Linked DNA regions of Homo sapiens: regions 1 and 3 are each linked to region 2. Evidence: fine-mapped expression QTL. A gene starts in region 2. Each other region holds a variant in brackets. All regions are shown on one strand. Distances are between the middles of the regions.

Evidence for each region. PIP is the estimated chance that this variant, and not a neighbour inherited with it, causes the effect. A credible set is the group of variants that fine-mapping cannot tell apart.
Region 1: its variant is the best candidate, but not a certain one, in a credible set for the expression of MBOAT1 in subcutaneous fat (GTEx, PIP 0.77).
Region 3: its variant is the best candidate, but not a certain one, in a credible set for the expression of MBOAT1 in whole blood (TOPMed, PIP 0.82).

Annotation. Positions count from the first base shown.
Region 1 is chr6:20,161,831-20,166,830 of GRCh38, forward strand. All of the region lies in intron 1 of MBOAT1 (membrane bound glycerophospholipid O-acyltransferase 1), which reads right to left. Among named protein-coding and RNA genes, the nearest start is that of MBOAT1, 48 kb to the right of the region's middle. The variant C/T (reference allele first, on the strand shown) is at 2,135.
Region 2 is chr6:20,210,341-20,217,982 of GRCh38, forward strand. MBOAT1 (membrane bound glycerophospholipid O-acyltransferase 1) reads right to left here and starts at 2,129. Exons shown (of 13, transcript NM_001080480.3): 1 at 1,796-2,129. The coding sequence starts at 1,894. RefSeq lists a silencer at 1,935-2,474 and an enhancer at 2,657-3,157.
Region 3 is chr6:20,134,618-20,139,617 of GRCh38, forward strand. The region is part of intron 4 of MBOAT1 (membrane bound glycerophospholipid O-acyltransferase 1); the gene reads right to left. Among named protein-coding and RNA genes, the nearest start is that of MBOAT1, 75 kb to the right of the region's middle. The variant C/T (reference allele first, on the strand shown) is at 2,102.

The sequences.
Region 1 (5,000 bases), 50 kb before region 2:
CTGTATTCATTTTCTAGGGCTGCCATGACAAAATACCAAAAACTGGAGGGTGGGTTGGGGGGCAAAACACAACAGAAATTTATTTTTCTCCCAGTTCAGGAGGCTGGTATCTGAGATTGAGGGTGTCGGCAGGGTTGGTTTCTTCTGAGACCTCTGTCCTTGGCTCCAGATGGCCGTCTTCTCCCTGTGTCTTCCCTGTGTGTGTGTCTGTGTCCTAATCTCTTCTTACAAGGATACCGGTCATGTTGGATTAGGACCCACTGTAATGACTTTCTTCACTACTAAGTTATTAATAACTTAATGACTGCTTTGAAAGCCCTGTCTCAAATACAGCCACATTCTGAGGGACTCGGGGTTTAGGACTTCAACATTTAAATTTTGGGGGAACACATTTGGCCCACAACACTGCCCAATAAAAATCCTCTACTCAAACCCACGGAATGAAACACACTTCATTTTCTTTGCACCTACAGCTAGGAAGCAGGTAAGACTCAAAGCAAAGGCTGCGTGGGATGCTGGGAGCCTCGGAGCTTCCCATCTGCCTGGAGGTGCCTCAGCCACTACAGACAGCACCAGAGAGGGTTCTCCCAGCTCCTGTGTGTGTCAGGAGCTTGTTAACCTATAATGGGTACAATGGGCTTACACATGTTGAGAAAGTTCATTATCCTTTGACCTTTGTTTAAAACATACAAGTTTTGAAGCAATAATAATCAGCATTTATTAAACACATATTATGTGCTGGAGTCTCCACAAATGTTGGCTGTTATTCTGCATGCTTCACATCTACTGTCTCATTTAATCTTCTTGACAACTCTCGATGTGCTACTGAGAAAACTCGCACAAAGTCAATGGCCCCAAAACCCTCAGCTGTAGGGCAGCTCCATTAGTCAAACTGAGAGGCTTAGGTTGCCTGCAGTGGCCTCTCAAGATCTCATTCTTGTACAAGGGAAAATTTGAATTAAACTGATAGAGCTGAAAGTCCTTTCCAACAACTGTTCTTTGAGGCATGTGTAAACCCTCTGTCTGTAGTTTGTATAGTCATGAACCAAGCTTCTTTCCATCAGTGCTGGGTACATCCTCCAGTCCCTCTAGAATGGGATAATCCCTCCTTTAATGCTCAGAGAAAGAGTCCTTATACACTTAGAGATTAAATTGTACAGGGAGACTTTTGGCTTACCTTATTTTGCAAATATCATGTCACATGGATTAGTTATGATTTAGAACGAAAGCCCTTTAAAAACTTACTCCAATGGCTAAAAGGTGGAAAACGATTGTGCTGTCTCTTTAGGCTTCGAGGCAAGAAAAAATCCTGAAGTACATAGGTGATATCTACGTATTTCAGCCTGCCTCCTATCCCATAAATCAAATCCTTATAATCCTTGGCCCAGCAGGCAGGGAAGACTGTATAAAACTCAGGACCATTTAGGACTCTTAAAAAACCCTGTCCACAAGCACGCTGTTACTCCTCACCTCTGGAAAGAAAACATTCCCATTAAATTCCACTGTTAACCAGTTAAAAATGTTAATATTATTCATACTTTATTGTTAATAATATTAACATTGGCTAGCATTAATGTGCTGCTGACTACCTCCCAGGAACTGTTTTCATTCCTTCTGCCTGTATAATTCCTTTTATCTTGACAACTTTTGATGTGCTTTGAGGCTTCCATTTTACAGATATGGAAATTCAGTCATGGAGAGGTTAGAAAATTTACCCAAAATCATACACCCAGTCAGTGGCAACACTGGAATTTAATCTCAGGGAGTCTGGTTCTACTCAGGCACAACCTTCTCGCATGATTCAATATCTCACTTTCCAGATGAAGGAACTGGAGCCCCGAGCCAGTACGTGACCTGGCCTGGGTCACACAGCCTCTGAACATCAGAGTTAAGACCAGAACTCAGGTGTCCTGACTCCAGTCCAGCATGCCTTCTGATGATTCCCCAGCAGCCCTGGAGGTGAGGTGGGAGAAAATTGGGGTACAGAGGGTCAGAAGGGGCCCATCTAAAAATAAGAGCCTGAGTAAAGAATTCTGGGCCTCCATAAGGAGTGAGGGGCACACACTGCTGAAGGGATCCCACTGAATAAGGAGGTGGAATGTTAGGGGGTGATTTTACAACCTTGACCGGGGCC[C/T]GGGATGTCAAGTTTTATACAGATAGAGATCACTACCAATGGCATGTTTGTATGTGCATGTGTCTGAATAATGTGTGTGCATAATATATATTTTTAATATGTGTATATATTATGTACATAATATATACTTATGTTTACTATATAATGTGTGTGTATAAAATCTATATATAATACAAATATATGTATTTAATATAGAATGTATGTGCATGTACACACACACACACACACACACACACACACAAACACACCCCATATATATGTAACCTGAAATTTTTCCTGTGGCTCAGGTCCACCCAGTTGGGCCTGGAGTCACCTTCTTTCAGTCTGGTTCCATCATGAAAAGTAACCTCAAATAAGAGACTTACAAGGTTAAGTGGGTATGTGGGATACTAATAACATCTACCCTACCAGATTGTGGTGGGCACTAAATGGAACGTGAAAGTACTACAAAAGTACTTTATATACTACTTTAAAAGAACTATAAAGCTTCACAAGTATTAGATAGGCTACAAAGTGTACAGTAGCTAACTAGCAGGACTTCTCAACATAGCAGCTCTCAACACTGGAATCAACCAAAGATCTGTTTTTTTGAAAAATTAAAATTTAAAGTGACTGATTTTAGAATCCTAATCCAGATCAGAATTTGTGGGAGGTTGGGGGATAAGGCATCTTTTAAAAAAATTTTTTTTAAGTTCCAAGGTGATTTTAATATTCAGCCAGGGCTGAGATCCACAGCTTCAACTTCTAATGCCAACCGGGAAGAAAGAGGCAGCTTAGCGAGTGTATGTTAGAGTACAGACAGTCCCTGACTTATTTATGATGGTTCGACTTACGATTTTTCAACTTTAAGATGGTGTGAAAGTGACTTGCATTCAGTAGAAACCGAACTTTGAGTAGCCATATGACCATTTTGTGTTTCACTCTCAGTACAGTATTCAACAAATTACATGAGATACTCAACACTTTATTATAAAATAGGCTTTGTGATAGATTATTGCCTACCTGTAGTGTTCTGAGCATATTTAAGATAGGGTAGGCTAAGCTATGATATTGATAGGTTGGGCATATTAAATGCATTGTTTGATTTTTCTGATATTTTCAACTTAGAGTGGGTTTTTTAGGATGTAACTCCATCGTCAGTTGAGGAGCATCTGTAATTAAAGATTTAAATCAGGCATAAAATAGACAAGAGAAGCTAGGACTATTAGCAATTATCTGATCCAAGCCCCTCATTTTGTGGGTAAGGAAACCGGTACATAGAGGGGAAAGGTTACTGTGGCCAGATTCTCCTGACTCCGTGGTCCAATCTGCTTCCACTTTGTAAATGGATTCAAAACTACATGTCCAACATTAACTACAACATCTGTATTGCTTGATACTTTTTTGAGAGCTAGTCCACTCCATACACCCTGCTTCACGAACCTGCAGAGGGGCTATGAGAAACATTTGGCACACTGTGTACCCAACTCTACGCAGAAGGCTTAAAATGAATAGTGGACTGGGTGCAATGGCTCACACCTGTAATCCTAGCACTTTGGGAGGCTGAGGCGGGTGGATCACTTGAGGTCAGGAGTTCAAGCCCAGCCTTTCCAATATGGTGAAACCCCATCTCTACTAAAAATACAAAAATTAGCCAGGCATGGTGGCACACACCTGTAATCCCAGCTACTCAGGAGGCTAAAGCAGGAGAATCGCTTGCACCCAGGAGGCGGAGGCTGCAGTGAGCCGCGATCGTGCCAGTGCACTCCAGCCTGAGCAACAGAGCAAGACTCTGTTTCAAAAAAAAAAAAAAAGAATAGGGAAACCAGTTTGGTTAGAATAGGTAAAAGTCATCTGAGCTAATTAACCCAACATCCTATGTTCCAAAGATAGAATGAAACATATAAGAACTGCAGGTCCTTCCAGGCATCTAGGAGAACTACATACAAATGAAGTCCATTAAAAGAAGCCATAGAGTTCATTTTTTAGCTAATTTCATTTTATTATAAAATTAATGAATGCTCATTTAAAAAAAATGAACAATACAGAGATGTACATGAGAGAAGTTCACAGATCCCTCATAATCCCAACCTTCTATATCTAGCATGCATCTTCCTCTTTAGCAGATGGAGCATACACTTTAATACTGTTTCCTATATTTACTTTCAAAATCCAAAAATATACCCATATGCATTGATTTCTCCTTTACTTTATCATAACCATGGTATAAAAACTACACTGTAACTTGTTTTTCATTCAACAAAAGATGGACATCTTTCCAAGTCAACTCATACTGAGCTAGCTTGTACTTTTTAAAGCTGTATAATATTCCACACAGTATGGCAGGTGTGGTGAACTTAGATTTTCATAGAGAGAGGTTTATCTTTACTCCATTCCCTAGGAGGGAAAATACGGAAGGAACATTTCCCCTTTTTCTCCGCCCTAACTCCCTCCCACTCTCCTTCCCAGGGAAGGAGGAATGACTTAATTAGCCAGCTGCTAAATTGAGAAGAGACACTGAGCAGGCCCAGCTCAGGCCTTTGGGGACTTCTCTCTTTGGGAGCCAGCATGCCTTTAGACAAAGGTATTCTCTGTTCTGTGCTCCCTGCACAGAGTTGTTGCACATGTTGTCCTGCCTGGAGTGGTCTTGGAGTGTCTGCTCAGCAGCATCAGTAATTGGGTGGCCAAATCAGTGTCATTCAAGGATAAAGTAGGAAATCTGCCAGGCGTGATGCTATAATCCCAGCACTTTGGGAGGCCGAGGCGGGAGGATGGTTTGAGCTCAAGAGTTCAAGACCAGCCTGGGCAAGAGAGTAAGACCTCATCTCCATGAAAAATTTAAAAAATTACCCAAGCATGATGACTTGCACCTGTAGTCCTAGCTACT
Region 2 (7,642 bases):
ACAAAGCTTCCAAACTCGCAAGCCACAACGTAGCCTCAAACGACCTTATTTATGGTTTGGGGATTTTCCTTGGGCCTAAAATAAGCTACCTGGGGCACTGCCTTTTAAGTGCTTCTTCCACCAAGGGTCATCCACACTCACTCCTGCTGGAGGGTGGTCAGACTGACCTAAGAGCTAAGAGATCTCAGGTGCTCCTGGCCATGGCAAACATTTCTCCTTCGGTTTATCCCAGAAGTCTCTCCCTCCCTCCCTCCCTCCCTCCCTCCCAGTTTTAAACATTCCTAAGGCTCTTTTGTTCCTTTTTATGAATTAAAACCAGAATTACCTTTATAGGAAAGTAGGGGATGCAATTGAAAGACATTAAAAACATTATTCTAGCACCTCCCAGCCATAACTTGCCATGGTCCTTTAGCCATACAAAAAGCCTTCCTGGAGTCTTTCTAGCTGTGTAGAAGAGCTTAGAAGAGAAAATGCAATTAAAATACCTTCTGATAGGGAGTGGAGAGGTAAGTACAAAACAAACTCCCCTTAAGGAAATTCAGCTATGAGTTTTATTTAATTTCAGAACTAAAGAATTTGCTATTATGTCCGCCTCTGCCTGGGTCCCTGGGTCTATCTCATCCTCACCAGAAACTAAAGAGTAATTTACAAAAGCACAAATGCTTTGGCACCGAAACCCTTCCCAAGTTTCTGACTTTCTGTATTCTGCAACTGATGAGAACGCAATGGTCACATCAGGTGGAGTTCTCAGTCAGGTCCTCAGAGTGAGCCAGGTATGAGGGTGGCTCAGTAAACAGGACCCGAATAAGGCAAATGTCCAGGTCTCACTTTCTCATTGCTGAAGGGGTGTGCGCAAAGGGCAGCAGGTGTGCTCTTGTTAAAAGGAAAGGAAAAGGAGCACTGGTGAGAGGAAGGGGAAGAAAACCAGGCAAAAAAGCATGAAACAAAACAGGAGCGCAGTGGGTCCTCCCCCAGCATGCCCTGCCCAATTCTATTTAAATCAACATTTACTGATTGGGTCACTACTAAGTATCCCGCAGATCTAGCCTGCAGCACCTGAAGAGACAAGGAAATGAGTAAGACGGGCTTCATCTTCAGGAAGGTTTCTTGCCAGGAATCACTGTTGTTGCCATTTTTAATTTTAATGGTTGTAGATAATTCCTGGACAGTTCAAATAACTTCACTGGGGCCCCTCTCCTCCCCCTAACCTGTCCTACTCAGAAGCTCCAGCCCCAGGCATATGAGCCAACCGAACCCTGGGAAAACCAAAGTGTCCTTGTGTGTCCCGCATCACACACGGTACAAAATAACTGTCACCCCTGAACAAGCCTCGCCTCAGAAGTCTAAAACCCAGGTCCTGCATTCAAAATCTATAGACTACCGTCTACAGATTCATCGCGCTTGTTTTTTAAGTAGGGTCATCTAAATTAAAAACAATAACGACTTGAGGACACTGATGAAAGAAACACTGGTTTCATGTATCAGACTACTTCAGAACTTGATTACAGGAAACGAGGCAATCCCAAACTTAAAGAAAAAAAAGTTCAGTAGAACTTGCCGCGCAGGCTGTACCAATATTTTTTCACACTTACAAGGAGAAAAACACTAACACCAACTCAAGAAGGGAAAACACACACACACACACACACACACACACACACACAAAAACCAACTGTCTAGTGTGTGGCTGTAAAATACGCCATGGAGGCGGAGGGACGGTGGCTAACACTTTCGCCCGCCCCGTGCACGCGATCGCTGGGGAGCTGGGGTCGCTGCGCTCCCGGCCTGCAGTTACCTGGTCCAGCGGGATGCCCAGGAGCTCGCTGAGCGGGTGCAGGTAGGTGGAGCCCGTGGTGCGGTAGGAAAGGCTGGACGGCTGCGGCTCTGCTGCCATCCTGCATCTTCGGGAGGTGGCTGCCCCTGTCCCAGCCCGCAACACCCCCTGCTCGGCGTCCTCCCGCCCGGGTGCTCTTGGGTGGTTGCCCCGAGAGGCGCACGGCCGCCTGGTTCGCGGGGGAGCGAACGGGAGGCCGGGGAATGCGAACCGGCGCAAACTCTCGAGGCGCAAACTCTCGAGGCGCAAACTTGGCTTTGGCGCTGGCGCTGCAGCCACGGGCGCCGTAGGAGGGCCGGGCCCAAGGCGCCCCGCTTCCCGCTCCCTTCCTCTCCGCGCCCATTGGCCCGGCCGCTCGGGACGGCCCCGAGAGGAGGGAAGGAGGGAGGAAAAGTGGGGACTCCGAGCCCGGCCCCCAAGCGCCGCCCGGCCCGCCCAGCCTGGCCTGCACCGAGGCCGACCGGGAGAGGGAAAGCGACGCCAGCGGGCGCCGCCGCCTGGCCCTGCAGCTGGAGGCGGGACGCGCCTTTCCTCCTCCCGGGCTGACCGTCCTAGCCCCCCGCCAGACAAAACGACCTCACCCAGCGGGCGCCTTCCACTAGAGAGCACCACCCACCCCGCCCCACCCTGTTTTGGTTTCGCCGCCGCAGTCGAAGCGGCTGAGTGGCTGCGTTTCCCTTTCAAGCCGTAGAGGGTTCCTCTGCCGGTGGCTGGAAGCTGGAGCGCCGCAGCCACCAGACTCCCTACTTCCTTTACCCTCCTCTGCGCTAGGCATAGTTTCCTACACCCTGATCTGACATGTTCGGTGTCACACAAGCAAATACAGGGGACTGCTAGCTTCGGGTCACTTCCGTCTCTGTGGAGTGAGAGTTATTTCACCTCTGTAAGAAACGGTGTTTACTGTCATACTATGTGCATTCTGATAAGTCATTTGCATGCCACGGGTCCTCAAAAAGGGTGCCTTGCTCCTTAACTTGTCTGCCCCCGAACACCCACACATCAATGTTACTTGGAAAACTTTTCCAAGTTATTGCTAGGTTCTGAGAAACATAAAAATCTTGAAGATCCTTTTCAGGAATCGCTAGCTGATGAAAAAGGGTTTCAGGAAGGTAATATTCTGGGCTGCTGGGTAGAAAACCAAAGAAAGTGAGCTCACGTGGCCCCCAGCCTCCGCTGGGTAAACCGGCATTCGATCAGACAGGCAATGACTTTCGGGGCCGACTTTATCAATGTGGCCTCCAGCTTCAAATTAAACCGAAGGCCTGTCAGGCACTGGCAACAACTTACTCTCCAAGACTCAGGCCTCACTCTTGCCTTCTTCAGGAGTTTTATCACCATCAAACTGCACTGAGCATTAAATTGCCAGGCCAGAGTTTCTCAACCTATGTCCCCTGTGGAGGAGGAAAAAAAAAAGTCTGTACCACCACTCCCACAAGCTAACCGAATGGAGATGTCACCACCAGATGATAATCTCTACCACTCACAAGCAAACCCACACTACAGACAGACAGACACATGCACACACGCACACAGGCATATACTTGAGGATCACTAGGCTAGATAGGTTCATTTAATATCATAGAGTCCTGGAAAATGACCAGCATTGGAGCAACATTCATCTTATCTGGAGCTAGATGACAGCTGAAGTGAGGTATATGAGAGCAGACGGAGCTTTGTTTAAAAGGAAAAAAAAATCAACACTCAGATATGAGTTGCTGGAAAACAGAAGTAGGTCAGTTTGGGAAGTATTTCTGGAGCAAGTGCCTCAGACCCTTTATAATTTTCACAAAGCTATGCCTTTTAGACTTCAAAGAATAGTCCTCACATAGGCCATATATATATATGTGTGTGTGTGTGCGTGTGTATATATATTTATTATAAATATATTAATTTATATAATCATATATAAATATATTTATATATGTAAAGTTTTATATGTACATATATTAGCCTTACACAGGTTTATATATACATATATTACACAGTTTTTATATATATATATAACACAGGTTTGATATATACATATGTATATATGTATATGTAAAATATATACATGTATTAGCCTTACACAGGTTTTTTTCTCCCTAACAAAACACAGTTCATAACCTAGTCTAAATTTTTCTTTTAAAAATGGCCGGGTGCGGTGGCTTATGCCTGTAATCCCAGCATTTTGGGAGGCCGAGGCGGGCAGATCACCTGAGGTCAGGAGTTCGAGACCAGCCTGGCCAACATGGTGAAACCCCATCTCTACCAAAAAACAAAAATTAGCCAGGTGTGGTGGCAGGCACCTGTAATCCCAGCTACTTGGGAAGCTGAGGCAGGAGAATCGCCTGAACCCAGGGGACGGAGGTTTCAGTGAGCAGAGATCACGCCACTGGACTCCAGTCTGGCTAACAGAGCAAGACTCCATCAAAAAAAAAAATAAAAATAAAAATGTAGTAACTATGGTTAGAGCTTATAAACAAAATGTCACAGAACTTAATAGTTCTTTTCTCTTGATACTGTAGTACAATTAATGCAAAAAAAAATACTACTGTTGGATAACTCAGAACCAAGAGAGTAGCTCTGTTACACTACAGATGAATGAAACACACTTTGAAGAAGTTGTTTATATGAGTCCAAGATGTATAACAGCGGCACCATGGACACATTGCTCTTTTCCTTCATCAGTATCTCTATTTCCATCCTCTGTCAACTGTAGGTTCACAATAATTATTATCATATGTTAGAAATCACTTTACAAAAGCTGTTTCATTTACCAGTGCTAATAATCCTGTGGTAGTTATAAGAATCTATTTTATAGATGTGAAACCTGGGGTTAAGGGAGCTTAAGTGACTTGGTTGTATTTAGGGAGGTTAAGTAAAATGTGTCTGTCTGATTCCAGAGCCTGGGCTCTTTATTCATTATGCATTGCCTCCTCTAAAACATAGTATTTTTCTCTTTATCAAGAGGCCAGCCCACACACCTGATACAACCTTGTCATTTTTGTAGACGAGACATTACATTTACCATTCAAAATGAGGTGGTAGGGGTGATGCCACAGACACGCTGTCTCTCCTGTTTTCTATTTGCAGTAGAGTGAGGCTTGATATCAAGGTCAGTTTTATGAATCTTCCCTATGGAACCATGCTCAGAATGTGACATTATCCAGGAGATCCACTGCACATCCTGAAGACAGGTCAAAAAATTAAAGCCAGGCACAAAAAAACCTGAAAAAGATTCTAGCATATTGGGAAGGGCTGCATGTTACCATGGACTAATAAAAACTCTACAAACTGCTGTAGAGTCACTAGGCTTTGGCAGAGTGCCTAAGGAGTTCCTAAAGAAGTGAAGTATTCTGATTTTAAGTAGATAAACTCCATGCCATTCTATCATGGATATTCAGAGGCACTTTCCATTCTTCCTACTTCACATACCAAATCAAATCAAACAACATAACTGATAATCAAAGAACAAAACTGAATTAAATACATCCTCAAAGTTTACAAAGGTATAATCCCTCAAGGAGATAAAACTCTAATGATACCTTCAGTCTATATTCAACCAAAAACAATCACCAATAAAACTAAATTTAAGCCATCTGAAATGATATAACCCATGTAAAAAAAGAATTACCATTTTAATAATACTACATATTAATGTAATGATACTATATATTCACAGAGCACACTCACTTATCCCCTTTGATCCTCCCAACAACTCTATGAAGTTGGAAGGGCAGGTGTTATTATCATTTGTATTATCATGTCATCTCAATTTTTATTCAAATGAATACTGTTTCTAATAAATTGCAGCTAGCTTATCCATCTAGTAAACAGCAAGTGTAGGGTTCAAACTTGGGTATTCTACTGTTCTTTTTAACTATACAGAAATCTTTTTATTATACTTTTTATTATACTAGGAGTATAATACTATTTTCCTTCAGGAAAATAGCAGAAATTGTTGCCTGCATAGGACATTAAATTCCAGGCTTAACATTTGAGAGCTGATCTGAAGAATGGTCAAAATTGACCCATGATAGGTATCACCATTGTTTTCTGAGCAGTTTCTTTAAGCATCATCCACAAAGCTTCAGGTAATTTATGTTTTTCAATCAATGATGTATTCCTTCATGTTTTAGCTCAACTGATGTGTGTTTGCTTGGAACATATATTGCAACCTGCCTACCCAACATATTTTCCAAGCTTGGGATCACAGTTAAACATTGTACATGTTCAGAAAATGAAGAAACTAATATAACTGAACATCTGCCAGATTTAGCTATGACTGCTATGTTATAGCATTTTTTGCTTAAGAATACTGTATTAGACCAGGAATTAACAGGTGCAGTGGCTCATGCCTGCAATTCTGACACTTTGGGAGGCCAAAGTAGGAAGATGTCCTGAGGCCAGGAGGCCAAGAACTCAGCCTTTAGAGCAAAACAACCGGGTATGAAAAACCAGTACTGCCTTTTACTAGTTTGGGGACTTTGAGCAAATCAATGAACTTCATGAAGGCCCAGCTTCCTCCTCTGTAAAATAGGAATAAGAATAATGATCCCTTGCAGCAGGTCTAAGAACTGGAGGAGAGATTTTGTTCAAAAAACATAAAAGAACTGAAGCTTACCCTTTCTGCACTAATGTTTCATTTTTGCCTTAGTTTTAGGCAAGGGAGATCTTTCTAAAATGCATTGCACGTGACCCTGAATACTAAAACAGAGTTAGTGATCTTAGCTTAATCATTACTGATGACTCAGGCATTATTGTGAACAAGAACCCATCCTGCAATACAGCAATGTCTTGAAGTCCACTGACACATCAAGAGTTTGTCCTTGCAGCCGGGCGTGGTAGCTCACGCCTGTAATCCTGGCACTTTGGGAGGCTGAGGTGGGCAGATCACCTGAGGTCAGGAGTTCGAGACCAGCCTGGCCAACATGGGGAAACCGTGTCTCTACTAAAAATACAAAAATTAGCCAGGCATGGTGGCACATGCCTGTAATCCCAGCTACTAGGGAGGCTGAGGCCAGAGAATCACTTGAACCCGGGAGGCGGAGGTTGTGGTGAGCCGAGATCGTGCCATTGCACTCCAGCCTGGACAAAAGTGAAACTGTCTCAAAAAAAGAAAAAAAAAAAAAAAGAGTTTGTCCTTGCTCTAAACTATGCCCAGAGAGGTACACTTTCTCAACTACTGTGTCTACTTTCTAGTTTTTCCATTTCCCCTTCTGCTCTTGTATTTCACTTGTCCCTGCCTTGCCTGCTACTTTGGTTCCCCTGTGAACTGGGGAGCTCTACGAATTGCCGTAGAGTCACTCGGCTTTGGCAGAGTGCCTAAGGAGCTCCTAAAAAAGTAAAGTATTTTTATTTTAAGCAGATAAACTCCAAGCCATTCTATCCTCCACGCCATTGTTTCAGAGGCACTTTCCATACCTCCTACTTCTTTGACTGTGTTCCAAATAGTTACTATTGCCAAAGTGTCCTATGAATAGCAAAGTGTGATTGAAGATAATGTTTGAGTACATAAAGACAGACAAAAACCTGTGCTACCCAGATTCCATGGTTGGCTGCAGTAAGAAAAAAGAGCAAGCTGGGGCTTTGCCTAATGCCCTGGAGCCGCTGGGTATTGGGAGGTGCTTGGCCCCACCCTCCCTGTCCTCTACCCTAACTCCACCTTGGGTGTTGTTGCTGAGGCCACTGTCACCTTAGGCTTCAGGGAGCTGCATAGTGTTAACCCCTCGACCCAAGACTTTATATTTGCCTTGGAGACCAATTGGAATCTCCCTCAACTCTTGTATTTTTCCCTTACTTTTCACTCTGTTCTGCGGCCCACTT
Region 3 (5,000 bases), 77 kb before region 2:
TAGAATCTTCCTACATACTTACTTTTGTGCAGTGCAAGGAAAAGCACCATACTGTCTTTCTCAAAACAAGTTCTCTCTGAACACTTTTTAATTTGATGAATTTATTTAAACTTATGGACAGATCTGATATGAAAATGTACTTCGCCCAAGTTACTAAGACTTGAGAATCAAATCCTTAGAGTTACTGACTTAAGATAAAACTTAAGTATCATCTATGTCATACTTCAATCAAATCATAAAACAATTCAGAACACATTTATTGGTTTATGATTGGAATTCATGTTCTTTTTTTTTTTTTTTTTTTTTGCAAAAAAATACAAAACTCAGTACAGGAGAACATACTAAAAGCACAGGAAGGACAAAAAAAGGAGGAGATCCATAAATGGCTCCTTGATGCAGCCCCAACAATTTCCTTAAAATTATGAGGCCTCCGAACTTGAGCTTCACTCAGATTTTCACCTCTCCAACCTTGGATTTAAACGCACTTGTCAATCATAGGATCCAATCATAGGATCCACCATCTGACCAACCTGGAGTTGGATAGACTCCAGCATGGATGAAGTAGGGCTATTTTACTATTGTCCTATACATTTTTTTCATTATTAAAAAAAGCCAAAGAAAAATCTTATGTTTCTTCTTGAAACTAAGATCATTAGTCAAGACTAGACAATGAAATATAATAGAATAGGAAAAATTAAGAGAAAACAGGTAGCTGAAGATATGTTTGAAGTAAAAAGAAAGCTAGAACAATGCCAGCACCCCCCATTATTGCCTTCTGATACAGACTCTAGGCAATTCATCAGATGTGGTACCCATTCATTCATTCATTCCCAACATCAGCTCCTAACCAAAAATAATTTATCTTTAAAACATTAAACAAAATCTTAGATTTGAGCAATATTTCAATAAAACCTACCTATTTTACCTTAATCTTTGGACCTAAAGTGGTAGAGTTCTGATGTCCCAGTAAAGGTAGGATGGGACAATGAGATAACCCAGACATCGGTTATTGGTGTCGGAAGAGCCAACCAATCACACGTCTGGCTGGCCAGCATCAAGATGAACTGACATTCAAGCCTCTGATGTTCTCCCAACAGGTAATTTTAGAACCAAAAGGCTCTACTTCGTATCTTTATTACTTCCTTTGCTTATAATAAAAATCTACTTGTGGTACTTGGACAGTAGAAAAGCAGGAAGTCAGGCAAGCAAGAAGTTTGGCAGGGGAAGAGAATACAGATTCAACAAACTTCCACTCAACAGCAACCTAGACCGCTACTGCCATCTCGCACAACTCCAGTGGGTGCCAAGATACAATGTGACTTGTACAACCTGCAGCTCGGACCTGGTAGCGAGGGACAGAGAAAGCTCAAGCAGCATTTCCTCACCTCTCTATTGCTTCTGCCTCTCCTATACCCTCCCCACACTCCCTGAATGACTGCAGAGGAGGAGGAGGATATTACAGCTTCAGTGGAATGCTCCCAATTCTTATCAATTATGTCAGCATGAGAAAATAAGCAACTCCAGAAGTTGCAGCAAAGGAAGTACATAGTTCTACCAGGCTTCCTAGGGATGCAACTAAAGGCAGAGATCACGCCTCTGGACTCATTTCAGAGTTCATTAGTATCTATTCAGAACCATCCAGGGGTGAATTAGAGTAGGAAAGCTTTTACTCTTTTAATTTCTTCAAAAATTTAACTTCTATATTTTGGCACTCAACAACAAAATCACCAATTCTCGATTTGAATATTCTCTATATTCGAATATACTTGGTATAACTTATGTCTGCAGAATTAAATTCCAAGTGACTGTGTTAGTTATTGAAAAGCTGGCAGCAGCATGAAAAAGAAACATGAAATAAACAAATCTTGAAATCTCTTTGCAAATATCCTCTTTTTTTCCCTATTATGGAACCCAATTACTTGAACATATTGGGCTGGTCAGATGGAGTGACCAGGATGTCATAAACCAACAGAGGAAAACACTGTCCACGGAACAATAGGACAAATGATCTCTATCGCTAGCAAGAGGTACAGGCAAGTAATATTTCTATTACACCCAATTAAGGCAACAAGGAACACAAACAGCAGTTGTTCCAATTCTG[C/T]TAGCTTCAGTGCACCATAACCTTTTAACACGCATGCAAATATATTTAAATAAAATTCCAGGATTTTCTCTCACTATTATAGTAATATAAAAGAGTAGAATGAGTATTAAAATCACCAATACTGCTTTCGCATTTTCAATATTTCCTTTCACTCTTTTTCTATACATGTCCACATTAAAAAGAAAAATGCAATCTTGGGACATGTATTTGTCTTATGGTTTTTATAGTCTTTGAAAATATCATTTTCAATGGAGGCATAGTAGCACCATAATTTAATCATTCATCTCTTTTAGACCATTTAGGATGTTTCTGGTTTATCACCATTATTGACAACAGCTGAACATCTTTATGAATAAATTTTGATTTCCTTATGGTAATTTAACTCCTAGGAATTTATCCTATCATAGGATATGAACTTTAAAAAAAAAATCTTGTTTGAAATTGATGGTGAAACTGCCTTCCAGAAGAGTTATGCCAGTTTACACTCCCACTAGCAGTACATAAGAGTTCTCATTTCACAGTGTTTACAACAACATGTGGGCAAATCAACCTGCAATCGTGATGGGAGAGCAATTATCTGCCTGAATCTGGCCTACCATGGCAAAAGGAAATAAGAGTTCTTGCTGGGGCCCTCCAAAGAAAACTCGATTTGCACCCTTCTGTGAGCAAAAAGGAAGAATCAGTTTGCTCTCACAAACCTAAAAGGAACTAAGTACCAGCTGTATTACAAGCAATCATTGAGCTTCCCCCAGGAGAACAGGAAATATTCTAGTGCTTTTAACAGCCCACATTCACCACAGAGAAAACATAAAGGACATTCACCACCGCATGTATTGATATGAATTGTATTAGCAGCACCAATAAAAGTGTATCTTGTTTGTTTCCCTTACCATTAATTCCAGTCCAGTCCATGAAAACTTGATTACTCTTGGAATGAAAAATACAATTTCAAGTCCCAGAATAATCTAAAATACAAGTTTATGTGTTCCCCAAAATTAAACACACACACACACACACACACACACGTTGTTTAACACAAACACTAACCTCATCCCATCCCATCCAATTCCTGTCTGTGCTCTTATTCTGAAGGCATAATAAAGTATGCTAAACATTTAGGTTTGCATGCATGCTCAAAAGAGAATGGCTATACATCAGGCTGCTTTAAAACACCAGGTTCAACTTCAAAATACTACTTTATCTCTTGACAAAATCCGAAACAAGATATTTCAACTGCAATAGTAGGGTTAAATCAATTCCATTCTGATGAACTTGTGGTTTGCTCGCATGCCTGTAATGAGAATAAACACTGGTAAAATACCTCTCTAACTGGCAATTTGTGATTTAAAACATTTTGTCAATTTCAGGTTGGTATGTACTCTCCATGGATGTTAACTGACATTACCCAGGAAGAGGGATTTATGGTAGTGAGGCAGCCTGCCTTTACGGTGGTAGGGAAAAATAACACTGCTTAATAATGACAAAAAGAAAAAAAGACAACATACCCTTCGAGAACTAGATAGTAGGGCCACTCAGTAATCACAGAACTGAATCACATGCAATTTTCAGGCGGATTTTTTTTCTGTATTATTTCCCTAACAACAATGTCCTTTCTAGTTTAAATATTCTGTAGTTTTGTGGGTAACATCAGAGATTTCTTACTACGAGGAGATCCAAAAAATGCCAGAAAATAAACATCTCTTGAGGACATTTATCAAGACTATGTGGCTGAAAGTGAGGTTGACAGGAACTGATTTCCATGCTCCTCTTGTGTCAAACCCCCAAATCCACGATGTTCAGAAGCACGTGACTGTTTTCCACAAATGCCCTTTATTTTTTCCCTTTGATAATTTCAGAATTCTGATTACATTCAAAATGATGTAGAAATTATTCAAGAGTTTATGGTTTTAATAAAACAAATGGAGATGTGACAAGAACAGCCAGAGATGCAGACGGTAGAGGCATCCTTATCCTGTATGATCAGGATCAGGGGACGGTTGTTAATTCATCAAAAGGTGGGGAATCATAAAACAACGCACATGAGCTTCCTAGGGCTGCTGTGAGAAATTACAAGCTGGGTGGCTTACAACAACAAAAATGTCTTCTCTCACAGTTCTTGAGGTTAAAAGTCCAAAATCAAGATATCTGCAGGACTGGTTCCTTCTGCAGGCGCTGAGAGAGAATCTGTTCCATTCTCCTTCCTTGCTTCCGGTGACTGACGGCAACCCTTGAGCTCCCGGGCTTGCGTCTGCATTACTCCAATGTCGGCCTCCATCTTGACATGGCCGTCTTCCCTGTATGCATGTGTGTGAGTCTGTCCCTCATGGCTTTCTTACCAGGACACAGTCGTACTGGATCTAGGGCCCACTCTAATCCAGTGTGACCTGATCTGTTTGTTTGGGTTTTTATTTTGTTTGTTTGTTTTGAGACCAAGTCTCACCCTGTCGCCCAGGCTGGAATGCAGTGGTGTGGTCTCCGCTCCCTACAACCTCCACCTCCTGGGTTCAGGCGATTCCCCTGCTTCAGCCTCCCATGTAGCTGTGGGACTACAGGCATGCGCCACCACGCCCTGCTAATTTTTGTATTTTTTGTAGAGACGGGGTTTCACCATGTTGGACAGGCTGGTTTCCATCTCCAAGTCTCCCAAAGTGCTGAGATTACAACTGTGAGCAACGGTGCCCCGCCCAATGTGACCTCATCTTATCTTAACTAATTGCATCTGCAAAGACTATTTCCAAATAAGGACATATTCTGAGGTGCTGGGTGGACATGAATCTTGGGAGGACACTCTTCAACCCAGTACACAAAAATACACTCACATTTTAACCTTTTTTTTTTTTTTTTTTTTTTTTTTGAGACAGGGTCTTGCTCTGTTGCCCAGGTGGAGTACAGTGGCATT